3 separate regions of the Homo sapiens genome follow, and all the other regions are linked to region 1. The links come from fine-mapping of genetic effects on gene expression. A gene starts in region 1. Each other region holds a variant in brackets. All regions are shown on one strand. Distances are from middle to middle.

What was found. PIP is the estimated chance that this variant, and not a neighbour inherited with it, causes the effect.
Region 2: its variant is fine-mapped to the expression of CALML6 in aorta (GTEx, PIP 0.98). The same link has a PIP of 0.9 or more in stomach.
Region 3: its variant is fine-mapped to the expression of CALML6 in visceral fat (GTEx, PIP 0.98).

Annotation. Positions count from the first base shown.
Region 1 is chr1:1,913,531-1,916,288 of GRCh38, forward strand. CALML6 (calmodulin like 6) reads left to right here and starts at 1,730. Exons shown (of 6, transcript NM_138705.4): 1 at 1,730-1,777; 2 at 2,155-2,205. The coding sequence starts at 1,751. RefSeq lists an enhancer at 551-1,237.
Region 2 is chr1:1,772,993-1,775,750 of GRCh38, forward strand. All of the region lies in intron 1 of NADK (NAD kinase), which reads right to left. Among named protein-coding and RNA genes, the nearest start is that of NADK, 4.1 kb to the right of the region's middle. RefSeq lists an enhancer at 1,116-1,617. The variant T/C (reference allele first, on the strand shown) is at 1,514.
Region 3 is chr1:1,808,810-1,811,567 of GRCh38, forward strand. All of the region lies in intron 5 of GNB1 (G protein subunit beta 1), which reads right to left. Among named protein-coding and RNA genes, the nearest start is that of NADK, 32 kb to the left of the region's middle. The variant T/A (reference allele first, on the strand shown) is at 1,268.

The DNA.
Region 1 (2,758 bases):
CTCTGTTGCCCAGGCTGGAGTGCAGTGGCGCGATCTCGCCTCACTGCAAGGTCTGCCTCCTGGGTTCACGCCATTCTCCTGCCTCAGCCTCCGGAGAAGCTGGGACTACAGGTGTCTACCACCACGCCTGGCTAATTTTTTTGTATTTTTTTTAGTACAGTCGGGGTTTCACTGTGTTAGCCAGGATGGTCTCGATCTCCTGACCTCGTGATCTGCCCGCCTCAGCCTCCCAAAGTGCTGGGATTACAGGCGTGAGCCACCGTGCCCAGCCTCTTTTTCTGTTTTCTTATGGAGAATAGCCCTTCGGTGATCAGAAGAGACACAAGAAGGAAAATAAAGATTGGATGAGTCTCAGGTCCTAGAGATACGGGGTATGTCCGAAGGCCACACAGAGGCTGGTCAGCATGAGGAGAGAGGGTTAGAGGGCGAGGACCTGTTCTGCTGCTTGTACTGGGTCTTGGATATGGGTAGAAGCCTAGATGGAGAGGAGAGAGGTTGATGGTGGTTGTGGCCATGTTGCCCCTTCCTACGGGCGGGGCGGGGGGTGTGCCCTCTGCTTTAAGTTGGGCTCCAGGGGTCACAGCTTTGAGTTTCACTCGTAAGCCCATCAGGATGTCTGGAACCTTCAGGGCTGTGGCCCAGGAATGTCAGACGCTGGAAGCCTGGGAACGGAGGAGGCAGAGCCTGCTGTCCACTGGCTGTGAGAGTTGTTGGGGTGGGGACTTGTCCAGGGCCACGAGGCCAGTGCAGTTCTCTGTGTCTCTGTACCCAGCTGGCCTGTACCTGGAGACCCTGAGCCAGAACCCAGGATGGGCCCTGGCCTGGGTGCTGCGGCTCCCTCCATTCTATGCCCCTGGGGGAAGGTGCTCAGTGCGTGAATTGTTCCCTGCCCCAGCCCAGGGGAAAGCTGAGGCCAGGGAGCAGCCAGGATGAAGGTCAGGGCCTCCCTTGGCCCCACCAGACCCAGGGCCGCTTCCCTCCAGCCCCGGCTCCCGTTTGGCTGGAGGTGCCCTGGGCCATTGGCCTGCCCTCGTCAGCGTCAATCTTGCAGTCTCAGCAGCTGGCCTGGGTTTCAGCGGGAGCCATCCTGTAGCTGCAGGTTTGCTGGCAGGCAGAGGGTTGGGCTGGCGGGGGACACTGAGTGCCCCACCTGCTCAGACTCTTCATGCCATCAAGGGGCCAGTCGGGGGGCAGGTGTGAGTGTGACCCTGAGGGCCCTGACCTGCCACTGCAATCCTCACACTCTTGCCTGGGTGGGGCAGGGAGGAGCTGGACCCTGGCTTTGGGAGTCTGGTGGGTAATTAGACCCAGACAGGGAGGGCTCAGTGCGGGTCTGAGGAGGGAACACACGTGTGCAGGCGTGTGCTCCACGGTGGCATGTTGATACGGACCAGCCTGGGCACCAGGCCCCCTCGGGAGCCAGCTTTGCTGTTCTGAGTGGAAGGGAGATCAGGTTTCCCTGAGAAACCCCAAAATAGCCCCCAACTGTGCCTGGCTTCCAGCGGGCAGCCCAGCCCCCAGGCCCTGTTTTGCTCCCTTTCCCCCTTCACCCCCAGCCCATGTCCTGCTGTCTCCTCCCTGAATGGTGGACCCTCAGCCCCTCCTGTACAAGATGGTCAAGCGGTGCCTCATGCATTTGTTCATTCGACCTGTCCTGAGAGTTTGTGACATGCTGGCACGGGGCCAATGTTGAGTCCACCAGGATGGGAGGGTGGCCAGGCTCTGAGCCACTGAGCACCAGCTGGCCAGGATGGGTCTTCAACAAGAAATCTCACTGGTAAGTGATGACAGCATGGGACCAGGGTCCCATGAAGACCTGCTGGAGGGCCGCACCTCTGGGAAGGTAGACTTGGAGCTTGGTCCAGTGAAGAGGGAACAGCACGGGGAACAGCGTGTGTGAGGGTCCCGCCATGTCTCAGCCCTTTCCTGGCCCCCGCACTTAGCCTTCGGTGCCCATCTTCAGGGTCAGGGGAAGCCCAGGCCAAAGCGGGCCGGGAAGGGGCCCTGTGGATAAGGCCGAGAGCCTGTCCCAAAATAGGGCCGGCAGGATTTCCCACCCATAAAAGGCTCTTGGAATCTGGACCCCGGGGACCCCAGGCAGCCAGGCCCAGCTAAAACTCAGCTGCCACCACTGCCCCAGCACTCTGCCCACAGCAGCCCTGGTGTCACCACCCTGCAGAATCCTGTCAGACAACCACCGACATGGTAAGGCTGCTCTCTGTGCCCGATGGAGTCTCTGGTGGGCTGGCTGGGTAGGTTGAGCTGGAACCTGGAGGTGCAATGACCTGCCACGGAGCCTGGGCAGGAAGGGGCTGAGGTAGAAGAGGGGGCCAAGCCCTGCTGCCACCAACACAGCCCTTGTTCCGGGGCCAGGGTGGAGCAGCCCTTTCTGAAAGCTGGCTCCCAGATGGGCAGCAGCAGTGGTGGCAGGCAGGTGTGGCCCGGTGCTGGACTCTCCCTCCGGAATGCCACACAGGCTGGAGCCCAGGGTTCTGCTTCCTGGGCTGTATCCCAATCCTGGGCTGGAAGCCTTTCCCGGGCCAGGGCTGGGCTCCTCCCCACCCTGCTCTCGGCTTCCTTCACCTGCCTCACCTGGTGTCCATTGCCAGGCTCCAGGGCCGCTGCCTGGCCCGCCTGGCCCTGCAGCTGCTGCTGTTCCCTCGCACGCTGGCTCCTGCCTGTCTGGCCCTTGCCCCTGTTAGCTGCCTGGCAGAGCCCTGCTGGCCCTGCAAACCCCTGGCGTGTGACCCCTTGTCCT
Region 2 (2,758 bases), 140 kb before region 1:
ATCACGCCATTGCACTCCAGCCTGGGCAACAAGAGCCAAACTCCATCTCAAAAAAAAAAAAAAAAAGATGTTAACACAGAGGGAGCTGGTGAAGGGCACAGGGGTCTCTCTGTACTATTTTTACAACTTCCTATGAATTAGTCTATGATTATTTTTTTTTTCCCCAGACGAAGTCTCGCTCTTGTCCCCCATGTTGGAGTGCAATGGCGCAATCTTGGCTCACTGCAACATCTGCCTCCAGGGTTCAAGCAATTCTCCTGCCTCAGCCTCCTGAGTAGCTGGGATTACAGGTGCCCGCCGCCACACCCGGCTAATTTTTGTATTTTAAGTAGAGATGGGGTTTCACCATGTTGACCAGGTTGGTCCTCAAACTCCTGACCTCAGGTGATCCGCCCGCCTCGGCCTCCCAAAGTGCTGGGATTACAGGTGTGAGCCACCGCACCCAGCCAATTATTTCAAAATAAACAGTTAATAAAGGTCAGACACAGTGGCTCACACTTGTAATCCCAGCACTTTGGGAGGCCGAAGCAGGGGAATCACCTGAAGCCAGGAATTGGAGACCAGCCTGGGCAACACAGCAAGACCCCGTCTCTACAAAAACATTAATAAAAAATAAACAAATCAAAATCACAAAATGTTAAAAAAAATGTATTATTACTGCTACATTACCTAGAAGCTCTATTTTGTGTGTGTGTGTGTGTGTGTGTGTGTGTGTGTGTGTGTGTGTGTGTGTGTGTGAGAGAGAGAGAGAAATAGAGATATTGAGAGACTGAGAGGTAGGGTCTTGCTCTGTCACCTAAGCTGGAGTGCAGTGGTGCAATTACAGCTTACTGCAGCCTCAATCTCCCAGGCTTAAGGGATCCTCCCATGTAGCTGAGACTACAGGCATGAGCCACTATGTCCAGCTAATTTTTAAATTTTTTGTAGAGACAGGGTCTCGCTACCTTGAACGGGCTGACCTTGAACTCCTGGGCTCTGGTGGCCCTCCTGTGTTGACCTCCCAAAGCATTGGGATTACAGGCATGAGCCACTGCACCCAGCCTAGAAGCTCTGTTCATATTTATTTGCGAAGATCAATTTGATGACTAAGCAGTAAACTAATTTATAAAATAATATTAAATATTAAAACCAACTTTAAACAATTATCTTCACCTATGTATGTGTGTGTGTGTATATATATACACACACACACACACATATATATATATTTAACAAGTATCTCCAATACCACAACCAGTGTATTTTTTGTTTTTTTGAGATGGAGCTTCGCTGATGTTGTCCAGGCTGGAGTGCAGTGGCGCGATCTCGGCTCACCGCAAACTCTGCCTCCCAGGTTCAAGCAATTCTCCTGCCTCAGCTTCCCAAGTAGCTGGGACTACAGGTGTGCGCCACCACGCCCAGCTAATTTTGTATTTTTAGTGGAGACCTGCCTCTTAATTCTCCAACATGGAGGGGTTTCTCCATGTTGGTCAGGCTGGTCTCAAACTCTCAACCTCAGATGATCCGCCCGCCT[T/C]GGCCTCCCAAAGTGCTGGGATTGCAGGCGTCGCCACCGCGCACGGCCACCATTATGCCTCGGCCTCCCACAGTGCTGGGATTACGGGCGTGGCCACTGCGCGCGGCCACCATTGTGCCTCGGCCTCCCACAGTGCTGGGATTGCAGGCGTGGCCACCGTGCGCGGTCACCACTGTATTTTTTGACAAGGGTGAGTCAGGACTGACACTTAATTCATTTGTTTGATATATTAACTGCTTTAAAAGGACACACAATGCTAGCTGCACCAAAGTGCATTCAAATTCCTCATAGCATGAATCTAATTTTAAAAAACCTTTGTAGGGCGGGCATGGTGGCTCACGACTGTAATCCCAGCATTTTGGGAGGCCGAGGCGGGCAGATCACGACATCAGGAGTTCAACACCAGCCTGGCCAAGATGGTGAAACTCCGTCTCTACTAAAAATACAAAAAAAATTAGCTGGGCGCGGTGGCAGGCGCCTGTCATCCCAGCTACTCAGGAGGCCGAGGCAGGAGAATCGCTTGAACCCAGGCGGCAGAGGTTGCAGTGAGCTGAGATCACGCCACTGCCCTCCAGCCTGGGGGACAGAGTGAGACTCCGCCTCAAAGAAAAAAAAAAAATCCTCTGTATTAGGAAGTTTTATTAGAAAAAAATACTAGAGCACAATAAGAAAATATTCATAACGAACTTATACAAAGTAGCAAGGAAAACATTAAGATGCCAATAAATAAATGTGCAAAGAACATGAACAAAAGTCACACACACACAAATACAAACATAATACACGAGTTCGTTCCCATGTAAGAACTCAATCAATATTTGTTGCAAGACTAAATGAAAAAGGAAAATTTATTTAGTGACAGAAATGGGGAAACATTCAACCTCAACCCTGAGTGGGAAAAAACTTACTGCCCACTAAATTACCCATCTCATCTCACCCCGGTAAATAATGCCCAGTGCTGGCATGCACACTGGCAGTATACAAACTGAGAAAGACTTTCTGGAAAGTGCTACAGCCATGTGACCACAGGGCTTCACCCTGTGACCTCATTAAACCTAAGCAGATTACAGGTCTGAAGGGGGCTTTCTTTAGATGTGGCTCCACCTACTTAGGGGCAGATGAAGAAAACAGGGGTCTGGGCAGTTCTGAATGGGAAGGCCAGGCATCACCTCCCTCTTCAGTTGCACAAAGTGTGCGTGGCATCCTCACATCCCATCTGCCTCAATTTCGCTTTTTCTCTGAACA
Region 3 (2,758 bases), 100 kb before region 1:
ATTTTTGTATTTTTAGTAGAGATGGGGTTTCCCCATGTTACCCAGGCTGGTCTCCAACTCCTGGCCTCAAGTGATCCGCCCACCTTGGCCTCCCAAAGTGTTGGGATTACAGACATAAGCCACAGCGCCTCAAAACACAGGTTTTAACTATTTCAGCTGTGAACATATGTGGCTTCTTAAAGCTGACCTAAAGCTGGAGTAACGCTCTCTCAAGTTTTGTTGATAACTCTGACACTTTTAATATCAAACTAGATGTTTTGATACAGGTGTCAATGAGTTTAAGAACAAATAAAAACCTTTTCACCTGCACTTTATTACAAAATTTATCACAGAACTAAAAACTAAGTGCAGGCTCCCATCCTATTATTTTTCAGATGCAATTTTTTTTTTTTTTTTTTTTTTGAGAGAGAGTCTCACTCTGTCACCCAGGCTGGAGCTCGCTGCAACCTCTGCCTCCCAGATGCAAGCAATTCTCGTGCGTCAGCCTTCCCATTAGCTGGAATTACAGGTGTGCACCACCATGCCTGGCTACTTTTTTGTATTTTTAGTAGAGACAGGGTTTTGCCATGCTGGTCTCGAACTCCTGAGCTCAATCTGCCTGCCTCGGCTGGGATTACAGGCGTAAGCCACCGCACCCAGCCTTCAGTTGCAATTCTTAAAGCAAACTTCTCAATCCAGGTTGTCATCAACATATTAAACATTTAAAATTATTTCTACGTAATGGTATCATGTTCCCACTCTAGCTTTATTTCTGCCCAGCCCTTCTGAGACTTTCTGTCGAGTATCAGAGCTGATCTAAAGCAGCTCATCCTCCTAGATTAGGAGGATCACCTTTACAGAGGTCTCCCGGTCAGAGAGCTTAATAACTGCTGACTTCCAGAGGGATTAGGGACACGTAAGCTGTCCACTGATCCTCCAGAAGGTGAGAGAAGACATGCCTCCTAGTCCCGGGTCAGGGAGCTGTTGGAAAGCTGGGTTCACGTTGCCTAGTAGTGCCTTTACCTACTCAAAAATCAATTATCTGAGGTGCCACTCACCTAGAACATAGAGGCAAGGGCCAGGAAGCAAGCTAACAGGCTCCAGGACCCTGAAAGTAGCTGTCAAAAATCAAAACACCTAATGCCCTTCATTTTACTCAAAGGAGGGAGGGTGGTGGCTCATGCCTGTAACCCCAGCACTTTGGGAGGCTGAGATAAGAGGATTGGTTAAGTCCAGGAGTTTGAAACCAACATGGGCAACAAAGGGAGACCCTGTCTCCACAAAAAAA[T/A]ATATATATATATTTTTTGAGATGGAGTCTCGCTCTGTCACCCAGGCTGGAGGATCTCGGCTAACTGCAAGCTCTGCCTCCTGGGTTCATGCCATTCTCCTGCCTCAGCCTCCCAAATAGCTGGGACTACAGGCACCTGCCACCGCGCCTGGCTTATTTTTTGTATTTTTAGTTGAGACAGGGTTTCATTGAGTTAGCCAGGATGGTCTCGATCTCCTGACCTCGTGATCCGCCCACCTCAGCCTCCCAAAGTGCTGGGATTACAGGCCTGAGCCACCGCGCCCGGCCCACAAAAAATATTTTTTAAAAATTAGCTGGGCACAGTGATGTGCACCTGTGGTACCAGCTACTCAGGAGGCTGAGGCAGGAGGATTGCTTGAGCACAGCAGTTCAAGGCTTCAGTAAGCTAGGATCGCACCACTGCATTCTAGCCTGGACGACAGAGTGAGACCCAGTCTCAAAAAAAAAAAAAAAAAAAAAAAGTTGCCTTTTAGTACAAATATATTGATAAACATATTACAAATGTACATCTGATACATTAATACATACATACATAACAAGTAATCATTGTGGGCCTTGCATGTAGTTTTCTTTTTTGTTTGTTTTTTTGAGACAGAGTCTCACTCTGTCACCCAGGTTGGAGTGCAGTGGTGCAATCTTGGCTCACTGCAACCTCTGCCTCCTGGGTTCAAGCGATTATCCTGCCTCAGCCTCCTGAGTAGCTGGGATTACAGGCACCCACCATGAAGCCTAGTTAACTTTTGTATTTTTGGCAGAGACAGGGTTTCACCATATTGGGCAGGCTGGTCTCAAACTCCTGACCTCAGGTGATCCACCCGCCTTAGCCTCCCAAAGTGCTGGGATTATAGGCGTGAACCACGGTGCCTGGCCTCTCATGTAGCTTTATTTGTGTTTTGTTTTGTTTTTTGAGGCAGAGTCTCCATCCGTCACCCAGGCGGGAGTGCAATGCGCATGTTTGTGGGTATATATATACATATATATATATTTTTTTTTTTTTTCTTTTTTTGAGATGGAGTCTCACTCTGTTGCCCAGGCTGGAGTGCAGTGGTGTGATCTTGGCTCACTGCAACCTCCAGCTCCTGGGTTCAAGCGATTCTCCCACCTCAGCCTCTTGAGTGCAGCTGAAACTACAGGCACTCGCCACCACACCTGGCTAATTTTTGTATTTTTAGTAGAGATGGGGTTTCACCATGTCAGCCAGGCTGGTCTCGAACTCCTGAAGTCAAGCGATCCACCTGACTTGGCCTCCCAAAGTGCTGGGGTTACAGGTGTGAGCCACCGCGTCTAGCCTCATGTAGTTTTGAAAGACAAACTAGGCCGGGCACAGTGGCTCACCCCTGTAATCCCAGCACTTTGGGAGGCCGAGGCGAGCGGATCACGAGGTCATGAGATCGAGACCACCCTGGCTAACACGGTGAAATCCCGTCTCTACTAAAAAGACAAAAAAAATTAGCCGGGCGTGGTGGCGGG